6 separate regions of the Homo sapiens genome follow, and regions 1, 2, 3, 4 and 6 are each reported to be linked to region 5. Evidence: microRNA targets listed by miRTarBase, many of them from high-throughput screens and not tested one by one. Region 5 holds a microRNA gene; each other region holds the end of a gene's coding sequence.
Evidence for each region. The annotated mature microRNA hsa-miR-520a-3p reads AAAGUGCUUCCCUUUGGACUGU and lies in region 5 at 2,594-2,615, shown strand. An mRNA with a match to its seed (bases 2 to 7 or 8) in the 3' UTR can be bound and repressed. Matches are read on the target gene's strand: a 7mer-m8 pairs with bases 2 to 8, a 7mer-A1 pairs with bases 2 to 7 and ends in A, and an 8mer does both.

Region 1 (4,080 bases), not on the chromosome of region 5:
TTTCTTTTTCTCTGAATTATCTGCTTAGATACAGGGACTCCATTTTTTTCCTACTTACAAGATCTTTAATCCTAGTATTGAGGAAAATGTCACTTACCTAACGTGGAATTGTAGACAACATCTAATGGTAGTTGTTGGTGGTGGTAGACAGGTATTGGGATGAATTTTTTAAAAAAATTTTCTCTAAACCATTCTAAAATGATTTTAAAAGATTGGGTTGTAAAAGCCATTGAATTGAAATTTAGTAGTTAATTTCTAAGGAATGTAATGCTGTTTTTAAAATATTTCTTTACATAGGTGGTTTTGATGATAATTCTCCTCTGAGTTCAGTTGAGCGGTATGACCCCCGAAGCAACAAGTGGGATTATGTGGCAGCACTTACTACTCCCAGAGGTGGAGTGGGAATCGCAACAGTGATGGGCAAAATCTTTGCAGTTGGTGGTCATAATGGCAATGCATACTTAAATACAGTAGAAGCGTTTGATCCAGTGCTGAATAGGTAATTTACATGTTGTCTCCGTGCTTTATATTATCTTCTGGTATAATAGTAGATTACTTCAGAGTGTTAAAATGTTGCTAGTCGTAGTTAATACTAAGCTTTGGGATATCTTATCTCCCACTGGAAGCTTGCTGTCCTACAAAACCAGTCTCACATAGGGAATTTTTGTCTTTGGTTAGTATTTTGAGTAAAGTAAATTATGCTTTGTAACATTTTTTCTTCTCCGTCTTTTCAGGTGGGAGCTTGTTGGATCTGTGTCTCACTGCAGAGCTGGAGCAGGAGTAGCTGTGTGTTCCTGTTTAACTAGCCAAATTCGAGATGTAGGTCATGGATCCAATAATGTGGTTGACTGTATGTGATTTGAGTTCTGGCCACCAACAATTTAGTCATATCTGATAGGTACAAAAGAAAACCAAGATTTTGATATGACCACCTTTCAACACTTTTTACTGCAACTAGAGTCTTATTTAAATGTTAACTGTTGTATTGTGACTAAGTACAACTTTTGGAATGATACCTGAAGAATTATTAGTAATAGAGTTAAATTTGATACTTCCTGCTTTTGCAAATAATGGAGTAGGGAAGAAGATAGTCGAACTTAAAATCATACCTACCCTGAAAAATGCTTAAAGTAGTGCCAAAAATCTTGAAATCTCTCTCTCTCTCTCTATTTGGATGAATCAAAATGTAATTTGTTGAGTTTTGCCTTTTCTTTTGCCTAAAGATGTTAACGTCAGGCAGTGGGTTTTTCCTAGAGGAGAGATTAGTACCTATTCATTAACACAAGGATACATAAGAGACTTGCCCCTTTTGAAGATCATTTCTACTTGGTGCTGATGAATTTATGCCTAGCTTTTTTTTTCTAGGTGGTGATTTTTCAATTTCTTTTATATTTACGGAAGTAGAAAAAATGTTCTGTCTTTTTGAATGCCACTTAGCTGCATTTTCAGAAGCTTATAGGCTATAAGAAGCCTTTAATTTCAGTTTGAATTGCTAGGACACCAAAAGACCTAGCTGGGCTAACTCCATCCAAATGATTTTACAGTTTTATTTTTTCATCTTTTGCAAAAAGTATTTGTTACATAATCAAAAGGTGAACCAGAGGAAATATTGAACAAGGTTTTAGATCTGATGTTATTCTGGTGCCCAATTGAGAGACCTTGAGAAAGAATGATGCAGATTACATGACTCTAATGTGGGCAGTCTGAAAATATCTTTAACTGTCTTCTTTGATCATTTGATTTTGGATCCAAGATTTATCATCTCTCTATTTTGCTATTTGCCACCATCCTGGTTTTTCTGACTGTACAGAATCAATCTGCATTTATTTATTATCAGAAATGAATGCATTTTTACAAAAACCTTTTTGTAGACTGTAGTTTATTGATTAGTTCAAGCCCATCACGAACTAATTAAACATATTGTTGGTAAAAACAGAGATTGAAATTACTGTTTTTATCATATTTAAATCCCTCTGGTGTATTTATTGAAATTTAATTAAAAATATTTCTACATATTGATTTGAAGCCAGGATATTGATGGACCTACAGATTTAACAGCTCTTCAAAGTTTTAACTAGCATTATAAAATGGCCTATTCATTATATGTATATTTTTTTATAAATATTTATCAAGAACATGAAAATATTTTATTTTGTATTTGCAGTGCAGTTTGGCACCTCTCTTCCAGGCCTTCCTAAGTTTTTGTTAGTTGTGTCTTCGAATTTATTGTAGTTCACCGCTGGTCAGTAATCTGGTTCATAAGGAAGCTGGGGCAGTGAAAAACACTTCGTTGATCCATCCAGCCCTAAAGTTCATTGACTAATAGCTCATGCATCTTATTAAATGGGATTCTGGACTTCTACAATAGTGTGGAAAGCCACATCACAAAAAAAGCCACATCACAAAAAAAAGCCAGTGCCTATTGAGTATATCAAACCAAAAAAGAAAAAAAAAAGTTTTAAGAGGGGTCAGGCTGGCAGATAAAAGTCTCTTATGAAGCAGATATAAATCCAGTAAGCTATTTTTTTCTACCTATGGGCAAGTTCATAAGTCATTGCTGGATCTGAACCAGTGTTCTTTTGTGTAAGTACAACCATATTTCAGTCAGTCCAGAGGCAGTTAACCCTGTAGCACTTACTAGACTGGTGACAACTGGCTGGATGTGGAGAATAAGTGTCAAAACCTGGCTTCAATGTCTATTTCTTATGTCTAATGGAGTTCTTATATTACAGTGTTTGTTTAGCTATGGTTACTAATATGTTTGTTATATTTATTTTCGGGGAGAGGATCTTGTTATTGTTTCCTGAGATTATTTAAAATGTTTTTTCTTTGATGTATTTCTGTCTTTCTTATATGTAAGGAGTTATAAGGGTTATTATATTTTCATTTCTGGTTTTTACTATACAATGGTTATCTAACATACTAAGTTGGTACCCTACCTACCCGTAAAATATGAAATACTCAGAAGTAAAGTGTGTGGGCAATCAGAAGCATAGCCTTGAAGGACCTGACAGCAGTATGAAAAGATAAATAGGCCAGGCATGGTGGCTCACGCCTGTGATCCCAGCACTTTGGGAGGCCGAGGTGGGTGGACCACCTGAGATCAGGTGTTCAAGACCAGCCTGACCAACATGGTGAAACCCTGTCTCTACTAAAAGTACAAAAATTAGCCAGGCGTGGTGGCGCATACCTGTAATTCCAGCTACTCAGGAGGCTGAGGCAGGAGAATTGCTTGAACCCAGGAGGTGGAGGTTGCAATGAGCCGAGGTTGAGCCATCGCACTCCAGCGGTGAAACAAGAGTGAAACTCCATCTCAAAAAAAAAAAAAAAAAAAAGATAAAAAAGCAGAATCAATATGTGCACAGTTCTCTTTATCAGGCAAAAACACGTTTATTGAGACATGAAATGAGAATCAGGCTGAAGGAATCATGCAGCTGAAAGATGATTATATTCATAGAAATGAAGAGATGAAATATTCAAAGAAGATGGCTACTTTATTGTGAGACTTACCACTTTAACCTCATATGTTAACAGCACCTACCAAAAAATGATATGAGATAGAGCTAAAATACTGAAATTGCAAATGGACAAAATAAATCATGAAAATTTGTTTATTATTTCTTCAATAAATATTTCTAGGTGCTTTGTGATTCTTTCATTTAGTCATTAAAGCCATTGCTTTACTATATTGCGTTGCCACTTTAAAAACAAGTTACTTGACATTGTTTTTGACAGATTTCACTATATACTTATGTAATTAATTGATTATTTCTAAAATGTTTGAATAAACTTTGTACTCCCTCTAAGGAGTATTTTATTCATTCTTTTAATTCCCAAATGAACTTTGAACTTACAGTGCTGTTGAATGCCTTGGTAAGGACTTCTTGAAATTGCATAAACTATTCTTGTAAATGGTAAACTTGAGAATTTTCTTTGTTTCTTTTTTCTCTATGTCTTAAAGAATGCCTTTAGAATCTAATTCATGTTGTATCAGTTAAGAATGTTTCTGTGGTTTCTCGTATCAGATGTGTAAAGAAATTATTACTGGGATGCCATTGGCTATGTCTCTTTCCCCTTCAT
Region 2 (4,089 bases), not on the chromosome of region 5:
TAATGTTAGCATAAAAAACTCCAACCAAAAGCAGCTTTTATTTTCTCCCCTCTTCCAGGTATGGTTCCAGAACAGGCGTGCCAAGTCTCGGCGTCAGAGTGGGAAATCCTTCCAACCTTTGGCTAGGCCGGAGATTATCCTCAACCACTGTGCTCCTGGAACTGAAACGAAATGTCTGAAGCCCCAGCTGCCTCTTGAGGTAGATGTGAACTGCCTGCCCGAACCAAACGGGGTTGGAGGGGGCATCTCTGACTCTAGCTCCCAAGGTCAGAATTTTGAAACCTGTTCCCCTCTCTCTGAAGACATTGGTTCAAAGCTGGACTCATGGGAGGAACACATCTTTTCTGCCTTTGGTAACTTTTGAGGATTCTGGGAGAATTCGGGATAAGCTCTGAGGAGCCATGACTGACAGCCTGGGAGAGACACATCAGCATACTGTCCTTTCTGACTTCCATGCTAAGGACATGTCCTTGTTAACCTTGATGATGGTTTTGACAGCACCTCTCACATTTGAAGGTACCCCGCCACTTTGTCAATGACGTTTTAAGCCCACACTCCCACCCCAGAGTTCCCGCATTCGTTTTTACCTGTGTTCTCTCCAAGCCTGCACATTCCATTGGTCTGCATCCCTATGCCTTCTTGCCAGGCCTGTTTTTAGTTTTTGGACTGGTTGTTCAGAACTCATTATTTTCTTCACAAGAATGCCTCAGCTTGACTCAGTTTCCCCTTGTGTTTGACAGCTGCCATTTTCTCCTGGTCCCTCCAAGGCTTATAATCTTAAAGTCACTCTACCCCGTCTCTTCAACCCTCATCCTAGGTTTATTACTTTTTAAAATTGGGCCTGTCATCTTCACGTTCAATCATAGCTCCAATGACTCTGCATGCAGATTATTTCGACAGCCCCCTTGCCTCTAGCTTCTCAACTACTTAAAAAAAATTACCCTCTGTGGGCCAGGTGCAGTGGCTCACTCCTGCAATCTCAGCACTTTGGGAGGCCGAGTGGGTGGATCACCTGAAGTCAGGAGTTCAAGACCAGCCTGGCCAATATGGCGAAACCCCATCTCTGCTAAAAATATAAAACTTAGCTGGGCACGGTGACGGGAGCCTGTAGTCCCAGCTACTCAGGAGGCTGAGGCAGGAGAATCACTTGAGCCTGGGAGGTGGAGGTTGCAGTGATCTAAGATCGTGCCACTGCACTTCAGCCTGGGAGACAGAGGGAGGCTCTCAAAAAAAAAAAAAAAAAAAAAAAAAATTACTCTATGGTTCTGTGGTAGCCTCCAGTTGCTACCAAATTATAAAAAGCTTTCAGTTACCCTCCCAGATAACTGATATCATCCTTAGCCTGCAGGACAGCTATGCAAATCTGAAGGTCAACTATCCACAATATATGCTTTGGTCTTAAAGTCACTCCTTTCAGTTTTGAACCAAATTCATACCTTTTGCTTTCAAAACACTCGAGGACTCCCCACCTGCCTTCTGAAGTCTGAAATTTTCTCTAAGTAATCCTGATTTTGCACCTGTTACTTCGATCACTCCATTACCCTTAGCACTTGTTATTGTACTTCCTGTGCAAGTTTTGTGGATTATTAAATGTCTTTCACAAATGTTCCAATGTAATTTCTATTTAAATGAATTCTTCTAGATAACTCCTAGTACAGTGCTTCACTCCACAATTGCTCAGTACATACTATGTGGCCATGAAAGACATTTCTAAAAGTTTCTGCAAATGTAGTTTTTAGCCAGTAATCAATATTATATCAGCAGGCCACTGAGCTGAGAAATTTAATTGGGTTAAAAACATTTTTGCTTGAATGTTTAATAATATTTTGTGAGTATTTTGGTTTTGGGAAATTTCTCTTTGCAATTTATAATTCTAAATGTATGTAAATAACCGTTTCTAAGTCAGTCTAAGATCAATTAAAATATTTTGATATTTTGAGAGTTTTCAAACTCCTTTAGAGTCAAAGGAAATGGTCTGTGTATGAGGCAACCACAGGTGAAGTTTCTTTGTAAACTGTGCTTTAAAGTAGGCTCATGGGATGCCATAGCTAGCTAGGGCCAGGACATCATGTCTTGATGGTTACTAGAAGAGCATGAGATTATACATGCCAGATGCCCTAATTTTCAGAGATGTTATTCAAGTGGTTTGTACTTTTCTTTTTTTGAGATGGAGTTTTGCTCTGTCACCCAGGCTGGAGTGTAGTGGCATGATCTTGGCTCACTGCAACCTCTGCCTCCCGGGTTCAAGCGATTCTCCTGCCTCAGCCTCCCGAGTAGCTGGGATTACAGGCGCCCGTCACCACGCCCAGCTAATTTTGTATTTTTTAAAGCAACCAAGAGCTGGGCAACAGAGCAAGACTGTGTCAAAAAACACCACAACATACAAAAATTAGCTGGGCATGGTGGCACATGCCTGTAATCCCAGCTACTCAGGAGGCAGAGGCAGGAGAACTGCTTGAACCTGGGAGGTGGAGGTTGCAGTGAGCCAAGATCGTGCCACTGCACTCCAGCCTGGGCAACAGAGCAAGAATCCATCTCAAAAAACAAAAACAACAAAAACCAACCAAGAGTTTCCAAGCACTTAGGAGTTGAGGAAAAAAGCAAGCAAGCAAGCAACCAACCAGGAGGTTGGGCACAGTAGCTCATGCCTGTAATTCCAGCAGTTTGGGAGGCTGAAGTGGGAGGTTTGCCTGACCCCAGGAGTTTGAGACCAGTCTGGACAACATAGCAAGACCCTGTCTCTTGAAAAAAAAAAAAAAAAAAGCCAGGCACGGTGGCTCACGCTGTAATCCCAGGACTTTGGGAGGCTAAGGCAGGCAGATCACTTGAGGTCAGGAGTTCAAGACCAGCCTGGCCAACATGGTGAAACCCTCTCTCTACTAAAAATACAAAAATTAGCTGGGCATGGTGGCAGGTGTCTGTAGTCCCAGCTACTCAGGAGACTGAGGCAGGAGAATTGCTTGAACTCGGGAGGCGGAGGTTGCACTGAGCCGAGACTGGGCCACTGCACTCCAGCCTGGGTGACAGTGAGACTCTGTCTCAAAAAAAAAAAAAAAAAAAAAAAGTCAGGCATGGTGGCATGTGCCTGTGGTCCCAGCTAATCGTGAGGCTGATGTGGGAGGACTGCTTGAGTTCAGGAGTTCAAGGCTGCAGTGACCTATGAGCGTGCCACTGCACTCAGCCTGAGTGACAGAGTGAGACCTTGTCCCTGCCATTCCCCCAGCAAAAAGCAGCCAAGAGAACATAGTTGAGGCCTTAGCAGCAAAGTGTACTTATCGATTCTTTGAAAACTGTTTGAAACCAAAAATGAGCTGATAAACATTAGCTATTAACACTGTGCTCAGGGCCCATCCTGGAGGTGCTCAGGAGGTCTCACAATCACAGAGCTTTACATTTAAACTTGTGACTTACATTTAAACTTGTGACATGGCCAAATGAGATACTGCAAATACATCCACAAAACTGAAAGACATATAACACTTTAAATTATGGTCCACTAAGAATCGCACTTACGAAAAAATCTGGTAATTATTTTATTATTGCTTTTATATTGTCTCATGTTGTTTCCCCAGTGAACAACTGTAAAAATCTATAAATATGTAAATCCTGTTGTCACATTTTAAATTGTGGGATCCTCTAAGAAGTAGCCTGCAGCTCTCTCAAACTCTAAGAGGCCCTAACTGCTAAATGTGTTACAGACATTATCTATTTTATCCTCACACCTACCATGTAAGACAGGGACTAATCTTCCTACTTTAAAGATCAAGAAACTGAATCTAAGTAGTGTCTCACAATTATACAGCTTATAAATGGCATGGCCAGGACTCAAACTCAGCCCACCCATTAGTCTACCACCATACAGTGCCTCCTATATTGCAGTGGTCTTGTTAGTCAGGACTAATGATAAAGTAATGTGATAGGTTTAAAAGCAATCACCAAGTCAGAATTTCTACATGCCAGTCATTACTGTCTCATCTTTCAAGGAAATCACCACGGAAGACCATACTCTTATTCTGATGACATTAATGTTGCTTAGAGCTTTTTTGAAACTCTCATTTGCCCACTCATTACACAAATATTTATTTGTTG
Region 3 (4,089 bases), not on the chromosome of region 5:
ATATATGGCAGCTTGTTACAGCAATTGCTTTAAAAACTTGAAGTTTGCTTCTTGCTATAATTAATCCGTCTGACTTTCCTAGCATAGTGTTTGAAAACTGTTCATTCTGGAGCATAGCAAGCCAGTCTGTCATATGTTATACCAAATTTGAAGGTTCTCCAGTACTCTTATGGGAATTAGGCAGATCTATAAAGAAATTTAGGGTTATAGCTTTAATTTAGCACATTTTTTTGTTGTTGATTGATTTACTCTCTATAGAGATTTGTTCTTTTTAATAATATAATATTCAGGTGATTTTTAAATCCTTTTTATTTCTCACTTGCAGGTCCTCAGTTTGCAGAAGACCCCTCCCAGTTGCCTTCAACTCAGTTACCTTCCTCACCTTTTGGAGACTATCGACAATATCAGTAGGACTTCTTTCCTAGGATTTCTTTAACAGAACGAGTTGTGGTTCGAGAAGGATTTCAGAAGATCAAGTTACAGTCTGTTTTTAAAACCATAGGTGGGACAGCTATGGCCAATAGGCTATAAAGAGACATTTAGCACTTTTTTCTATTTAAAGGAACAAGCGGGGAAGGGTGCTAAAAGATAATACGTTTATTTATTCACACTTGAATTGCATTTGTGATCAAAATAAATGTTTAAATCGCTAAAGGAAAATACAGTAAGTGCTTGAAAGATGAAGGACCAAAAGGCCAAAAAACAGTGAAATATGATCATCATCTCCTTGCGGACTTCTCTGCCTGGTTTTGTGTGTTCTGTTATTCAAACAATAAAAAGCTGGTGGAACTTACTCTTTCTTTTAAGATAAGTTGTAGACTTCGATGTTTCATGCTCATGTACTTCAAATAATGCATGTTTTATAGTTAGTCCCTCATCACTTGAAGTGACTTCTGAGAATTATGCAGAGTCAACATGGATCATTTCACAGTGAGATGCTTTATGGATTGAAGGATATGGTAAAATGTTTATAGTTTACTTTGAAAGTAAAATATACTATGTCTTGGTTTTGAGGATATTGGATACAAAACTCTCTTCCTTTAGGGCTACTGAGTCTTGATTCCTGATCATCAGAAATTTCACCAGAAACAACTTGCTTCCAATATACCCAATTCTATATGAAGAATTCATGGAGAGTGTACTGGCACTGGAAGAGTTTAGTGTTTCTTGTATGCTTGAAAATAAAGTATGTACTGTTTTGAATGTGTTCCAAGTCCTCTGCATAAACGATGTATTTTGGGGTCTGGTTGGGCCTGGAAAATGGATGAGCACTTCAGAACAGGTCATTTTCCTGATATTGGAAGTGACATGTGGCCCTATAGGAGGCATGATGTTAGTTAATTACACATTTGCCTACATCTGTGGGAAATGGAGAACAAAGCCATGTGGGTACTGTAAACACACGTTTATCTTTTGGCCCAATGCCATACATATGGTAGGCATTTAATTACTGATTGTGTTTGGATAATTTGGGAATTTTCGACTGTGGTAAAATATACATAAAATAATACTTATTAACCATTTGTAAGTGTATAATTCAGTGGCATTGAAATACAGTCATAATGTTGTATAACAGCCACCATTATGTATACCCAAAATGTTCTCATTATCATCAACATAAACTCCGTTTTGTTTTTAGAGACAGTGTCTTACTCTGTCACCCAGGCTGGAATGCAGTGGCACAGTCATAGCTTACTGCAGCCTCGAACTCCTGGCTTCGAGCCATCCTTCTGCCTCAGCCTCCCACACCCCATGCTGGGATTACAGGCATGAGCCACCATGTCCAGCCTTCACAAACATAAACTCTGTACCTGTTAAATAATAACTTCCCATTCTTTCCTCGCCACAACCACTAGTAACCACAATTCTGCTTTCTGTCTGTGAATTTGCCTTTTCTGGGTACCTTATATAAGTGGAATCATAAAATATTTGTTTTTGTGTGTCCGTCTTAATGCACTTAGCGTGTTTTAAGGTCCATGTAGTAGCATGTAGCAAAATTTATTTTTAGGGCTGAATAATATTCCATAGTGTGCATATACTACATTTTATTTGATGATCAGTTAGGTTGTTTCTACCTTTTGGCTATTGTGAATTATGCTGCTATGAACATTGGTGTACAACTATCTGTTTCAACTCCTATTTTTGGTTCTTTTGGATATATACATAAGAGTGAGATTACCGAGTCATATGGTAGTTCTAGGTTTAACTTTTTTTTTTTTAAAGACACAAGAGTCTGGCCGGGTGCAGTGGCTCACGTCTGTAATCCCAGCACTTTGGGAGGCCAAAGCGGGCAGGTCACAAGCTCAGGAGTTCGAGACCATCCTGGCTAACACAGTGAAATCCCGTCTCTACTAAAAATACAAAAAATTAGCTGGGCGTGGTGGTGGGCGCCTGTGGTCCCAGCTACTTTGGAGGCTGAGGCAGGAGAATGGCGTGAATCCGGGAGGTGGAGCTTGCAGTGAGCCGAGATCTTGCCACTACTCCAGCCTGGGCGACAGAGCGAGACTCCGTCTCAAAAATATAAAAGAAAGTGCTGGGCGCGGTGGCACACGCCTGTAATCCCAGCACTTTGGGAGGCTGAGGAGGGTGAATCACGAGGTCAGGAGTTCGAGACCAGCCTGGCCAACATGGTGAAACCCGGTGGGTACTAAAAATACAAAAAATTAGCTGGTAATGGTGCCGGGCACCTATAATCCCAGCTATTTGGGAGGCTGAGGCAGGAGAATCACTTGAACCTGGGAGGGAAGAGGTTGTAGTGAGCCAAAATCACACCACTACACTCCAGCCTGGGCAACAGTGCAAGACTGTCTCAAAACAAAAAAGTAATCCACTATTGCATGCCAATTTGGCACAAGATGTCAGATACAAAGCAAAACAGATGGGGTATTTCTGATGGGCATTTCAACCTTAAAAGTGAGAAACTAACTTCACTATTCCAGTAAAGACCTAGGGAAAACCTCCTTCCTAATCTGCTTGTTTCTCCAGTTATTTATTTCAGTTATTAAAACAATTTAGTTTTTTTACTTTTTATCTTGAGCTCTACTCTAGTATACCAAATTTAGTTTTAGAATATTTATTAAACAGTTCAGCTGGGGATGGTGGCTCATACCCATAATCCCAGCATTTTGGGAGGCTGAAGCAGGAAGGTCGCTTGAGGTCAGGAGTTGGAGACTAGCCTGGGCTAGTGAGACGCTAGCCACAAAATGTAAATTTAGCCAGAGATAGGGTGCACACCTGTAGTACCGGCTGCTTGGGAGGCTGAGGCGGGAGGATCCCTTGAGTCTAGGTGGTCAAGCCTGTAGTGACCTATGATTATGCCACTGCACTTCAGCCTGGGCAACAGAACAAGACTCTTTTGTTTGTTTGTTTGTTTGTTTGTTTGTTTGAGATGGAGTGCTAGGATTACAGGCATGAGCCACTGCACCTGGCCAGCACTTTCTTTAAATAGAGACAGAGTTTTGCCACATTGTCAAGGCTGATCTTGAACTCCTGGACTCAATCCTCCCACCTCGGCCTCCCAAAGTGCTGGGATTACAGGCGTGAGCCACTGTGCCTGGCCGAAATAGTGGATTTCTGAATCAGGGTTTGGAAGACATGGGTACAGCTGCACCTGCTATTGAAAGTGCATCTGTTTTTCACATAGGAAATGTCTGCAAATTATGAAAGCATGGTCATAGCTCCACCCTGTGGCATGTTACTTATAGTTAAAATTAATTGTCCAAATTCTATTCAGGCTGGGCCCAGTGGCTCATGCCTGTAATGCCAGCACTTTGGGAGGCTGAGGCGGGTGGATCACTTGGGGTCGAGACTTGAGGTTTCACCTTGTTGGTCAGGCTGATCTCGAACTCCCAACCTCAGGTGATCTGCCCGCCTCCGCCTCCCAAAGTGCTGGGATTACAGGCATGAACCACCGCATCTGGCCTCAAATAATAATAATAATAAATTCTATTCAGTCTGTTAGATCATGGATGAGACCTTGTCTCTACTAAAATTCAAAAAATTTAGCTGGGCATGGTGGCATATGTTTGTAGCCCCAGCTACTCAAGGGGGCTGAGGCAGGAGGATTCCTTGATCCTGGGAAATGGAGGG
Region 4 (4,089 bases), not on the chromosome of region 5:
TACTTTGCCTCCAATGGTTTCTCCTTTGGTTCTTCCCATCAGAACTGGAAAGCTGTGAAGAACTTTTGTGATGCCAACAACCTCATGTTCATCCCCAGTGTGGGGCCTGGCTACATAGACACCAGCATTCGGCCCTGGAACAACCACAATACGCGCAACAGGGTCAATGGCAAGTACTATGAGACGGCCCTGCAGGCGGCCCTGACAGTGAGGCCCGAGATCGTTTCCATTACCTCCTTCAATGAGTGGCACGAGGGCACCCAGATTGAGAAGGCCATTCCCAAGAAGACACCCACCCGCCTGTATTTGGACTACCTGCCTCACCAGCCCAGCCTGTACCTGGAGCTGACACGCCGCTGGGCGGAGCACTTCATCAAAGAGAAGGAGCAGTGGCTCATGTGAGGGGCCTGTAAATGGGCGTGAGGTGCTGATGTCCTTGCCTTGCTGGAAGATGTCACCATGTGGGGTTCAGCTGAGGTTGTAGCCACTCACTCGTTCCCAGGTCAGAGGTCAGCAGATGGGTGTTTCTGGGTGGGCCGTCAGGCATGGGCCTGTGCAACACAGAGCCCGTTCCTCAGGCGAGTGGTGCTGAGGTGCTCTGTGGTGATGGGAACGGCAGAGGCTGGCAGGTGACTGAACTTAGCCCAGGGCAGCTCCACATCCTGGGAACACTTTCATGTAACCCCTTCTAGTTTTGAACTCTGCAGCAGGCTGGTGCTGTGTAGTGGCCACCCAGTCACCACCCTTGGAAGGGTGTCAGGGTCTGGGCTCGCATGCACCCTGCTCCCTTCTGCCAGCCTGCATCCTCTCCTCAGGCCTCCTTCCCACATCATCTGTCTTCTCTAAGTTAGGGAACCATATTTGAGACTTTCAAAAAGGGAACTTCTAGGTTTAAGCTCCTCCCAGTAGATTCCTGAACCCAATTATCAGGAAATCATCCTGAGCACTCACAGGTTCATTTAACACTCACTCATCAAGCACCTTCCTATGTGCTAGGTGCTGGGGAAAACTTGACCAAGGAAGAGTTCCTGTCCTGAAGCTTCCAGGACCCAGCTTTCCTTTTCTGGTGTGGCCTTGTAGCTAGTGCCTGGGCACAGGTGTTTTTCTTTTTGCAGTTTTACCTAGTGCTGGGAGTTCAGTTCTTTTTCCTCTAGAAAAATACCTCTGTGCTCCAGAGCCTAATTTTTCCCAGATGCATATTTAGCTCTAGGGAGAGGACTAGGAGGAAATCCCCCTCCCTTTAGCTGCCTGAACTGACTGAGGCCCACTCACTAGAGCCATGTTCAGTGCTACTGTGATTAGTAGTAATTAAATATGAACTGGTATTCTCAAGTAAGCATTCCTTTTGCTCTCTTTAAGACCTCACAGATTCTGACCTTAGATTCTGTGACAAACTGATACAGGAGCTGGGCTGGCTATGGCTTTACCACAACAAGTAGGTTTGCTTAAGAAATTACTAAACAATGGCTGGGCGTGGTGGCTCACTCCTGTAATCCCAGCACTTTGGGAGGCCGAGATGGGCGGATCACGAGGTCAGGAGATCGAGACCATCCTGGCTAACAGGGTGAAACCACGTCTCTACTAAAAATACAAAAAAATTAGCCAGGCGTAGTGGTGGGCGCCTGTAGTCCCAGCTACTTGGGAGGCTGAGGCAGGAGAATGGCGTGAACCCGGGAGGCGGAGCTTGCAGTGAGCCGAGATCACGCCACTGCACTCCAGCCTGGGCGACAGAGCGAGACTCCGTCTCAAAAAAAAAAAAGTTACTAAACAAGGCTGGGCGTGGTGGCTCACACCTGTAATCCCAGCACTTTGGGAGGCCAAGGAAGGTGGATCACCTGAGGTCAGGAGTTCGAGACCAGCCTGGCCAACATGGTGAAACCCCATCCCTACTAAAAATACAAAAATTAGCTGGGCGTGGGTGCCTGTAATCCCAGCTACTTCTGAGGCTGAGGCAGGAGAACCGCTTGAACCTGGGAGGCGGAGGTTGCAGTGAGCCAATGTGGCACCACTGGACTCCAGCCTGGGCAAGAGCAAGACTGTCTCAAAACAAAAACAACAAACAAACAAACAAAAAGAAAACACAAAAAACATTACTAAACAAGATTTCTAGAGGGAATTAACAAACCAGTGCTTATTTACCAATAAACTAATACGCTAATTGCAGGAACCCTGATTAAAGCAGGCCCCTGTTAACACAAGATTCTTAGGATATACTTGGAAACAGGTGCATTGGAAACCACTGTACTGAGAAGTTTATGGGCTCAAGACTGAATTGGAAGCTAGGCGTGGTCGCTCATGCCTGTAATCCCAGCACTCTGGGAGGCTGAGGTGGAAGGATGAGTTCAGGAGTTCGAGACCAGCCTGGGCAACACAGAGAGACGTGTCTTTAAAAAAGTAAAAAATGGGCTGAGTGCCTTGGCTCATGCCTGTAATCCCAGCACTTTGGGAAGCCAAGGCGGGTGGATCACTTCAGGCCAGGAGTTCAAGAACAGCCTGACCAACATGGCAAAACTCCATCTCTACTAAAAATACCAAAAAAATTAGCAGGGTGTGGTGGTGCACACCTGTAGTCCCAGCTACTCAGGAGGCTGATGTGTGAGAATCACTTGAACCTGGGAGGCGGAGTTTGCAGCGAGCCAAGATCGTGCCACTGCACTCCAGTGTGGGCAACAGAGATTCTGTCTCAAAAAAAAAAAAAAAAGACTGAATCAGAATTTTGGGAACTAGGGTACAAGAGGGAAGGGGAGGAAGGAGGAAATAGACCCCAGTGGTCACCTCAAGGACACCCAGCCCCAGTTAGGTAACTGATATTAAGCCCCACCAGAGAGATGAGCAGGCCTGGCCACCTGGCTTTGGGGCTTAGCTGGGGAAACCAAGGCAGGCAGGGACAGCTGAAAGGGTTGGATGTTGACCTGTAGTAATTTACAGAAGGTAGCAACACTGGCTTCATTTAACACACACACAATCTGAAAAATACTAAACATGGGAAGGCCAGGGGGCAGAGGCAGCCATTCTCACACACTGCTAACAGCAGTGTAACTTGACTCAGTTCTTTTGAAGGCTAATCCATACTGAGAGCCATAAATACTTCCTACACTTTGACCTACTCTCCTAAGGAAATAATTCAAAAGAAGAAAAACAAACCATTTACAAATATGTTTAATAGCAGCATTTCTTTAAAGAAAAACAAAGTTCAAATGCCCAATAATAATTATGTTTAACACTTGGTACACATATAAATAGACAAAAGGCTGCGGAGAACACTGGATTTAAATAAAGGTGTTATGGGTATAATTAACTATAATTTATTTTATGAATAAATAAGAAAAAAGTCCCTGGCTATAAAGGATAGTGGAGGTTTATTTCCCAATATTCTTCCATTTGGACTGAACCCCTGCCAACTAAGCAGACATCCCACTATTACACCAAAAAGACTGCTCTCCCTGCGAGCAATTACAATACATGACACCACTAGGCCCAATGGCTCAGAGGGAAGAGTGGCCTGTGGCTCTTCAATCTTTATCCAAACCTGGTTCTAGCTTCAGGAGCCTTTGGTCACCTGAGACTTTTTATTTATTAATTTTTATGAGACGGAGTATTGCTATGTTGCCCAGGCTGATTCTGAACTCCTGGGCTCAAGCAGTTCTCCCGCCTGGGCCTCCCAGAATGTTGGGATTACAGGCATGAGCCACCACACGCAGCCACCTGAGACTTTTTAAACAGCACCAGCACTTCTGGCTGGTTTGAACCTTAAATGCCACCACCCACCAGAGAGGAGGCTCTCACTAGATTCTAAATCTGTTATTTAATTACTTTTCAATTGAAAAACAAAACAGACAGAAGAAACTTATTAGAATAAGGCCACCTAGGAATGTTCTTAACTTTTCCATTCAGCTTTTGGCTGATATATGAAAATACAAATAAATACATCCTTTCCCCAGGTGCAAGGCTAAACCAGCAGCTCCAAGGGCTTGGTCTACAGTGCTCAGAAAGACACACTGCCTTAAAAGTCAGGCTAGTGCCCTAGCTCCGGTGGCCTCTGCAAATGAGGCCTTGACAGTCGTCAGTGGACAGACACATAGTATCCAG
Region 5 (4,089 bases):
GATGGTCCTTTTCAGGCGTTTTATTCTGGATTCCAGAAAACATGCAAACAGGGCCACTAAATGCATCTTTATTTTTCTGTCCATTTAAACCTGGTCAAAGAAAATTCCAACACGAAACCCAGAGTGCTGGAGCAAGAAGATCTCAAGCTATGAGTCTACAAAGGAAAGCGCTTTCTGTTGTCAGAAAGAAGAGAAAGCGCTTCCCTTTTGAGGGTTACGGTTTGAGAAAAGCAGTGTTGAAGTTGATGCTGATCTTGGTAATACATTTGCAGAGCATGCTTATCATCAGACTTGGATGATAGCGGGGTTATGTTTTGGTTTTGTGTTTTTCTAAGACAGGGTCTCCGTTGCCCAGGCTGGAGTGCGGTGGCACTTCCAACCTAGCTCTCTTGGGCTCAAGTGATCCTCTTTTTATTTATTTATGTATTCATTTTTGAGATGGAGCCTGGCTCTGTCACCCAGGCTGGAGTAGAGTGGGATGATCTCCACTCATTGCATCCTCTGCCTCCCAGGTTCCAGAAATTCTCCCACCTCCGTGTCACTAGTAGCTGGGATTACAAATGCTCACCACTATGACCTGCCAGTTTTTGTACTTTTGGCACAGACGGGGTTTCACCATGTTTGCGGGGCTGGTCTCAACTCCTGACCTCAAGTGATCTGCCTCCTTGGCCTCCCACAGTGCTGGGGATTATAGATATAAGCCACCGTGCCCGGCCCATTCCTGTCTTTTTAATTTAATCTGCTCGTCCCTGACATCGAAAATTTTTCTTGCTTAACAGCTTCCACTTATTTCTCGGAATAGACCTTTTTCTGCAGGAAGGGTGTAGTTGATTCAACCCTCACCCACTCATGCCAACCGTAGTGAGTGCTGTGACTGCAGCTGCACTGTTTATCCTGTTTTCTGCAGGTAATTTTTCCAGTGTACCATTCCAACCTGCAAAACCTCACATTTAAATGCAAATTTCTTGGTAAGCTGTGAAATGTTGGCTGTGGCTAATATGAGAAACAAGCTATTATAGACAAGATGAATCTCAGTTGCAGTGATAAATGTCACATGGGACAAAACCACAGATACTTTCACAAAAACCTTGAGGACCCTAGAAGGGCCTCCCTAGTAACAGGTGGGATGCGCATCCGCTCTTGTTGCCATAGTGAGTGATGCCTGTTCGTCCAGCCCTCAACACCTTTCACTCCGTGGAAGTTATGCCTGCACTGGTTTACAGAACCTCCCTTGACTTGACTTGAGGTAGAGTTGAAGGGAACCTCAGTGTCCCTTGCAGATGGGATGTGCATTGCTTCGCAAGAGCACAGAGGTGGAGTGCATGGGCTTTGAGTTTTTATTGGGTAAATGAAGCTGAAATACAGGGTGTATGACCACGTTATCAACGCACACTTGATTTAGGTTTTGTATTTTAGAGACGGGGGTGTGAGCTGCCAAAGCAAGGACTTATGTGTAGGAATTATTCTTTCTGTGAGCATACAGTATATGGAACTTTCTTTCTTTTGAGACAGGGTCTCAAAAATATATGATGTATGGCCAGGTGCGGTGGATCACGCCTGTAATCCCAGCAGTTTGGGAGGCCGAGGCGGGTGGATAACCTGAGATCAGGAGGGCGAGACCAGACTGGCCAACATGGTGAAACCATGTCTCTGCTAAAAATACAAAAAATTAGCCAGGGCTGGTGGCGCACGCCTGTAGTCTCAGCTACTCCGGAGGGTGAGGCAGGAGACTATCACTTTGAGTGTGTGTCTTTGTGTGTGTGTGTGTGTGTGTGTGTGTGTGTGTATGTGTTTCTAGTTTTTACAAGACACAGCCTGACTATATCACCGAGGCTGGAGTGCAGTGGTGCAATGTTGGCTCACTGCAACCTCCACCTGCCACCGCAGCCTCCTGAATTAGTGTCTACAGGTATGCACCACCACACCTGGCTCACTTTTGTATTTTTTGTACAGATGAAGCTTCACCATGTTGCCCAGGCTTGTCTGGAACTCTTGAGCTCAAGTGATCCTCTCACTTCGGCGTCCTGAAGTGCTGGGGTTAGAGATGTGAGCCACCGCACCCAACAGGTACTTGTGTATTTTTTTATTGAGGAGCTTTTACAGCGTAGCCTGTGGTCTCTCCTGGAGGATGTTTGTGTGTGCGACAATGTACATTCTTCAACATCTTAGATTCCATTTTGGATGCCCCCATGGGTACTACATGTGCCTATACTGGAACTCAAGTGAACACTTGGCTCAAAATCCATTGCTGTTCTCTAGAAATTCAGTTCGATTCTCTTGGTTAAAGATAAGGTATGAGTAGTAGGCATTGCTTTTTCTCTTTGGGGGCAAAACTCAGGAGGATTGCCCCTTGATGAACAAGGCTAACCTGCTGAGCCTTTGAAAGAAGGAACTGGAGATGGTCCTTTTAGGGGGTTTATATTCTGGATTCCAGAAAACATGCAAACAGGGCCAGGAAAAATGCATCTTTATTTTTGTGTCCATTTAAACCTGGTCAAGGAAAATTCCAACAATAAACCCAGAGTGCTGGAGCAAGAAGATCTCAGGCTGTGACCCTCCAGAGGGAAGTACTTTCTGTTGTCTGAGAGAAAAGAAAGTGCTTCCCTTTGGACTGTTTCGGTTTGAGTAAAGCAGCGTTGAAGTTGATGCTGATCTTGGTAATACATTTGCAGAGCACGCTCATCATCAGACTCGGATGATGTTGGGGTTCTGATTTTGTTTTTCTCCAAGACAGGGTCTCTGTTGCCCAGGCTGGAGTGCAGTGGCAGTTCCAACCTAGCTCTCCTGGGCCCAAGAGACCCTCTATTTATTTATTTATTTATTTATTTATTTATTTATTTATTTATTCATTCATTCATTTAGAGATGGAATCTGGCTCTGTGACCCAGGCTGGAGTGCAGTAGGACAATCTCCACTCACTGCAACCTCCATCTCCCAGGTTCCAGCAGTTCTGCCACCTCAGCCTCCCATGTAGCTGGGATTACAGGCGCCCACCACCATGTCATGCTAATTTTTGTATTTTTAGCAGAGATGGGGTTACACCATGTTTGCTGGGCTGTTCTCAACTCCTGACTTCAAGTGATTTGCCTCCCTGGCTTCCCAAAGTGCTGGTATTACAGGCGTGAGCCACTGTGTCCGGCCTCAAGTGGTCTTCCTGAGTCAGCCTCCCAAGTAGTTGGGATTACATGGGGCGTGACACAACACTTGGTTCAGCTTTTAATTTTTGGTAGAGATGGGGTCTCTGTTGCTCAGGACGGTCTCAACTCCTGAGCTCAAGCGATCCTACAGGTGTGAGCCACCTTGTCCTGATGACCCATTTCAAAGATAGTTGACTTGGCCAGGCATCATGGGGCACACAGTCCCAGTTACTGCAGGGGCCGGGGCGGGAGGGTGCTTTGATTTTAAGGCTATACCGTGCACAGATCCCACCTTTGAATAGCCACTGCACTCCAGCCTGGGCCAACATAGCAAGATCCCATTTCTTTAAAAACAGATTACATAGCACCTGGTCCCACAGATTTCATTTGGGTTGGTCATGTCATACAATGGCCTCCCATCAATTTAGTATAATCAATCCAAACCATGGTTCCTTCATTAAGAGAGTGGGTAATCCTCCAAGTCCATCCAGTCTATTCTGTAATCCCCAGTGGGTGTCCGTATTGATACAATTTCTTTTTGTTCCTGTTCACTCGTGTCTTTTTAGTGTAATCTGCTTGTCCGTAACACTGAAATTTGTTTTTCCCCAACATCTTGCCATCATTTCTCGGAATAGACCTGCTTTCTCTGCAGGAAGGGTGTAGTTGATTCAACCCTCACCCACTAATGCCAACCCCAGTGAGTTCTTTGACTGTAGCTGCCATGTTTATCCTATTTTCTTTGGGTAACGATTCCAAGGTACCATTCCAATGGGCTTAAACCTTGCATCTAAATGCCAGTTACTTGCTAAGATGTCAAATGTGTCTTATATTAGCTGTGGCTAATATAAGAAACTGTTGTAGACAAGATGAATCTCAGTCACAGTGATAAATGTAGCATGCAACAAAACCAGTTGTTTTCACAAAAATCTTGAGGACCCTAGAAGGGGCTCCC
Region 6 (4,086 bases), not on the chromosome of region 5:
CCACCGTACAGTGCTTAGTTGAAAAGCAAAACAGCCTTGAGGGCTGGTAAAATCCCTCTTTCAAAGGGGGGAAAACCCATGAAGAGACTAGAAAGTATAATCCTCTACTGGGCACAATTAGAGAACTTAGAGAACATTCTGAATTTATTCCACAGGATGAAACTGGTCAATCATTTTCTCTAATCTCCATGTGGCTTCAAATTGTCCAGTTTCTTCAGCAGTGAACTTGTTTTGACAAATTACTTATTCTAGGGACCAAACCCTCAGGGCAACTTCATATTTGCCGTGTCTTTTTTCAGCAATTTTCAATCTACTTTCTAAGGTTTCAGGGCTGGGCTACACTTCCATGTTTATTAAAGTAAATGTAATTGACAAATTACTTTTTAATTGTAATGTTGAAATAAAGTGACAAAACATTTAGTGATCTTTTTATTATATTAATATACTCTGGGTGAATTAACCCTTAAGCCCTAAAACGACAACAAAAATATATTACTTAGATATTTTGTAATTCTGGTACTTGAAATAAAGACAAATAGAAAACTATGTTAAAATATTAAAAAGTTGCAAAATTTCATTAAAAACATTTACATTTGTATCCTAATGCCAATTTATACATACAATTCTTTTAAGTTAGATTTAATGGAATATCTTAACATATGAAAATAATAGAAATAAATATTAAATATTCAGAACATACTCATGAGTGAAAATTCAATTAATTAGTATTCCTAATTTAGATATTTATTTATGAATGACCAAGGGATTTTACAGTTCCTTTTTAATTTTTTGTACTTGATTCTTGGTCCCTTAACAATGTATAACCCTGTAAAACTCTCAATAGCCACTAATCACTGGTAGGATCATTTCAACAAAAACACATGATTGGGCCGGGCGCGGTGGCTCATGCCTGTAATTCCAGCACTTTGGGAGGCCGAGGTGGGTGGATCACAAGGTCAGGAGTTTGAGACCAGCCTGGCCAATATGGTGAAACCCCGTCTCTACTAAAAATACAAAAAAATTAGCCAGGCGTGGTGACACACGCCTGTAATCCCAGCTACTCGGGAGGCTGAGGCAGGAGAATTGCTCGAACCCGGGAGGCGGAGGTTGCAGGGGGCCAAGATCGCGCCACTGCACTCCAGCCTAGGCAACAGAGCAAGACTCCGTCTCAAACCCCACCACCCCCGCAAAACAAAAACAAAAACAAAAAAACAACAAAAAAACCCCCTGTAACTAACAAAAGAGGAACCTGTTTTAAATGAACCCGTTTGCTTGTCAATCACTAAAAATGAAGTCTTTTTATAAGTATTTTCTTTAAGTTACAATATATAGAAGGCATGTGTATATGTGTGTATATATATATATATATTTCTTAAAAGTGTTGATTGGTGAGAAAAGAATAATTCCTTGGTTAACTTTTCTCATTCTTGTTCTGTTTAAAGAAGTGTTTTGTCTGTATTTTAAAAATGGATTAGAAAATAATGGCCAACATCTCTTTAAAACCAGAAAAAATCATTTTACAGACATCTTGGCATCTATACTCTGTTTTGTCTAATAAACTTTAAAGTTATTTCTCTCCTTATACTTTTTTTTTTTTTCGAGACGGAGTCTCGCTCTGTCGCCTGGGCTGGAGTGCAATGGCATGATGTGGGCTCAATGCAACCTCCACCTCCCGGGTTCAAGCAATTTTCCTGCCTCAGCCTCTCAAGTAGCTGGGACTACAGGCCACCACGCCTGGCTCATTTTTGTATTTTTAGTAGAGATGGGGTTTCACCATGTTGGCCAGGCTGGTCTCGAACTCCTGACCTCAGGTGGTCCGCCCGCCTCGGCCTCCCAAAGTGCTGGGATTACAGCGTGAGCCACCGCGCCTGGCCTCCTCTCTCCTTATAAACACATTTAACCTGGGCGTGGTGGCTCACGCCTGTAATCCCAGCACTTTGGGAGGCCAAGGTGGGCAGATTATGAGGTCACGAGTTCGAGACCAGCCTGGCCAACATGGTGAAACCCCATCTCTACTAAAAATAGAAAAAATTAGCCGAGCATGGTGGTGTGCACCTGTAATCCCAGCTACTAGGGAGGCTGAGGCAGGAGAATTGCTTGAACCCAGGAGGTGGAGGTTACTGTGAGCCAAGATCACGCCATTGCACTGCAGCCCGGGCGACACAGTGAGACTCCGTCGCAAACAAGCAGACAAACAACACTGAGCAGAGCATATTCTTAAAGGTTCCTGGTAGGTCTTATATCTTACTCAGTATTCTCAGTCAACCAGAGGTATTAGTTTACCAAACGTGGAGATTAATTCATGCAAATTTATGGTTATTAATGTATCCAGGCCAGGGAGTACATTGTTCAAATCGGGATTAGTTTTTAGATATTTTGTTGTTTCACACGGTTGGCAATTAAAACATATTTATACACTAATTGCATTAATGCAAACTCCATCAACCCAAACCTTTCTAACTATCCTTTTTGAAGTCTGCCCATGCAACATCAGCGAGGCAAGCAGAAGCCCTGGGCACCAGGTGGGAGGGGACTGCCCTTCAGTCCATGGTAGCCTAGGCCCCTGGGAGCACAGGCTGGGGCAGCGAGAGGGTGGATGCTTCCAGACAGACCCTGACTCCCTCCACATGGCTGCCTGGATGTGACACAGGCCCAACCAAAGCTATGGACAAAACCCCCAGCTCACTCCCACAGGAGGGGATGGCTGGTTAGGAGACTGTTTTTTGAGGGTTGGTTTCATCATTTTAAGCAATGTGTTGATGTTTTAAACATCCTATCAACTCTTTGAAGAAAGTAAACTTATGGATCCAATCACAACATGGATGTGGAAGGGGCGGGAGGCCCATACCAGTGGGCTTCTGCCTGCTGTGAACACAGGGTGATCAGGTGGAAATTCATTTAACAGTGACTTCCTCCACATGTCTTTAGGAATTCGAAAGTGTGGAGAAAGTGAAGCGCCTCTGAGCAAAGGCACGGGAAGGGCCCACACCTGTGTCTACCTCAGTTCCAGCAGGGAGCTGATGCCTGTCACAGGGGCAGCACTACTGGAGAAGCATCCAGCAAGGTGCGGCTGAGGTGGGACCAATTCTCAAAAAAACTACGATTAAAAAAAAGATGTTCTCTTTTGCCTTTATTTCTTGCTATAGTGGGAACGTGAGTTCTGCTACCTGGGGCTGAGTGCACTGGGCAGCAGGCCCAGCAGACGGGGCCTGCAGGGGGAAGGCACGGCTGGAGGCCCGTGCGCACCGCCACTCTCCTGGAACCGCTGCTGGCCGAGCCACAGCCCTGCGGAAATTCTACTGCGTGTGGCAGAGACCGATGTGCAAAAGGTTTCTGGTGAATGTTTTATGGAAATTGCTCCAAGCACTAAGGAAAGCGGGACCGTGCCTGTGCTGACCGTGGCCTTGCGCGAGCGCCTCCCGGCGGTGCTCTCTGGCTCTCTCCAAACAGGACGCTTCCTTCTCTGATTCTAAGGAAGGCCTGAGACAGCCCTGAAGGCTTAATGTACAGTGCGGCCAGGTCCTGGCACTGCACGCAGGATCTTTGGTTAGCTGCATCCATATCGTTTGCACGAGAGCTGACGGCACAGACGCGTAAGAGGCGTGCACGGCGGGGAGCTGGGGACAGCAGCCAGAGCATGGGGCCACCAAGGCCAGAGAGTTCTGGAGAGATGGTGTAGAATCAGGAGACCCGCTCCATCCCTCACAGAGACCAAGGAGCCCGAGCGCCGCGTCAGCGCTTGGCGTACGTCCTGCTGGAGCTCTTGCTCAGTCCGCCCTTCGGGGTGGGGATCTTGCTTCCGGCCTTTGACCCCAAGGGGCCTGATGCGGCCACAGCTGAGCTTTTCCCTGCAGAGCAAGCACAGGACCTGCATTAGGAGGGGCACTCCTACCCACGGACCAGGTGCAGAACCTGTGGCCACAGACACCCAGCAACAACGTCCCAGGCCCATGCTGATGGCCGTCACCCGACTACAGGAGCCAGGGCTGAGCCTAGTAGGGTCTACTCTTCAGCTTCCTATTTTTTTTTTTTTTGTTGAGACAGAGTCTCACTCTGTCACCCAGGCTGGAGGGCAGTGGCGCAATA

Region 1: miRTarBase lists KLHL8 as a target of hsa-miR-520a-3p. Seed matches in the 3' UTR shown: 8mer at 2,630-2,637 and 7mer-m8 at 3,066-3,072.
Region 2: miRTarBase lists MIXL1 as a target of hsa-miR-520a-3p. Seed matches in the 3' UTR shown: 7mer-m8 at 982-988 and 7mer-m8 at 1,546-1,552.
Region 3: the mRNA of TIMM17A is a reported target of hsa-miR-520a-3p. Seed matches in the 3' UTR shown: 7mer-m8 at 542-548 and 7mer-m8 at 1,268-1,274.
Region 4: miRTarBase lists MANEAL as a target of hsa-miR-520a-3p. The part of its 3' UTR that is shown has no 7-base or 8-base seed match.
Region 6: miRTarBase lists CEP104 as a target of hsa-miR-520a-3p. Seed matches in the 3' UTR shown: 7mer-m8 at 1,837-1,843.

The regions. Positions count from the first base shown.
Region 1 is chr4:87,160,297-87,164,376 of GRCh38, reverse strand. It overlaps KLHL8 (kelch like family member 8), which reads left to right. Exons shown (of 10, transcript NM_020803.5): 9 at 298-499; 10 at 735-4,080. The coding sequence ends at 858. Among named protein-coding and RNA genes, the nearest start is that of KLHL8, 58 kb to the left of the region's middle.
Region 2 is chr1:226,225,449-226,229,537 of GRCh38, forward strand. It overlaps MIXL1 (Mix paired-like homeobox), which reads left to right. Exons shown (of 2, transcript NM_031944.3): 2 at 59-1,612. The coding sequence ends at 364. Among named protein-coding and RNA genes, the nearest start is that of MIXL1, 3.8 kb to the left of the region's middle.
Region 3 is chr1:201,969,144-201,973,232 of GRCh38, forward strand. It overlaps TIMM17A (translocase of inner mitochondrial membrane 17A), which reads left to right. Exons shown (of 6, transcript NM_006335.3): 6 at 326-1,521. The coding sequence ends at 411. Among named protein-coding and RNA genes, the nearest start is that of SNORA70H, 7.3 kb to the right of the region's middle. RefSeq lists a silencer at 1,650-1,827.
Region 4 is chr1:37,799,802-37,803,890 of GRCh38, forward strand. It overlaps MANEAL (mannosidase endo-alpha like), which reads left to right. Exons shown (of 4, transcript NM_001113482.2): 4 at 1-1,332. The coding sequence ends at 402. It overlaps YRDC (yrdC N6-threonylcarbamoyltransferase domain containing), which reads right to left. Exons shown (of 5, transcript NM_024640.4): 5 at 3,144-4,089. Among named protein-coding and RNA genes, the nearest start is that of C1orf122, 5.9 kb to the right of the region's middle.
Region 5 is chr19:53,688,340-53,692,428 of GRCh38, forward strand. MIR520A (microRNA 520a) reads left to right here and starts at 2,542; the gene lies at 2,542-2,626. MIR1283-1 (microRNA 1283-1) reads left to right here and starts at 142; the gene lies at 142-228. All of the region lies in intron 2 of LOC107985342 (a long non-coding RNA gene), which reads left to right.
Region 6 is chr1:3,811,670-3,815,755 of GRCh38, forward strand. It overlaps CEP104 (centrosomal protein 104), which reads right to left. Exons shown (of 22, transcript NM_014704.4): 22 at 417-3,848. The coding sequence ends at 3,733. Among named protein-coding and RNA genes, the nearest start is that of LRRC47, 17 kb to the left of the region's middle.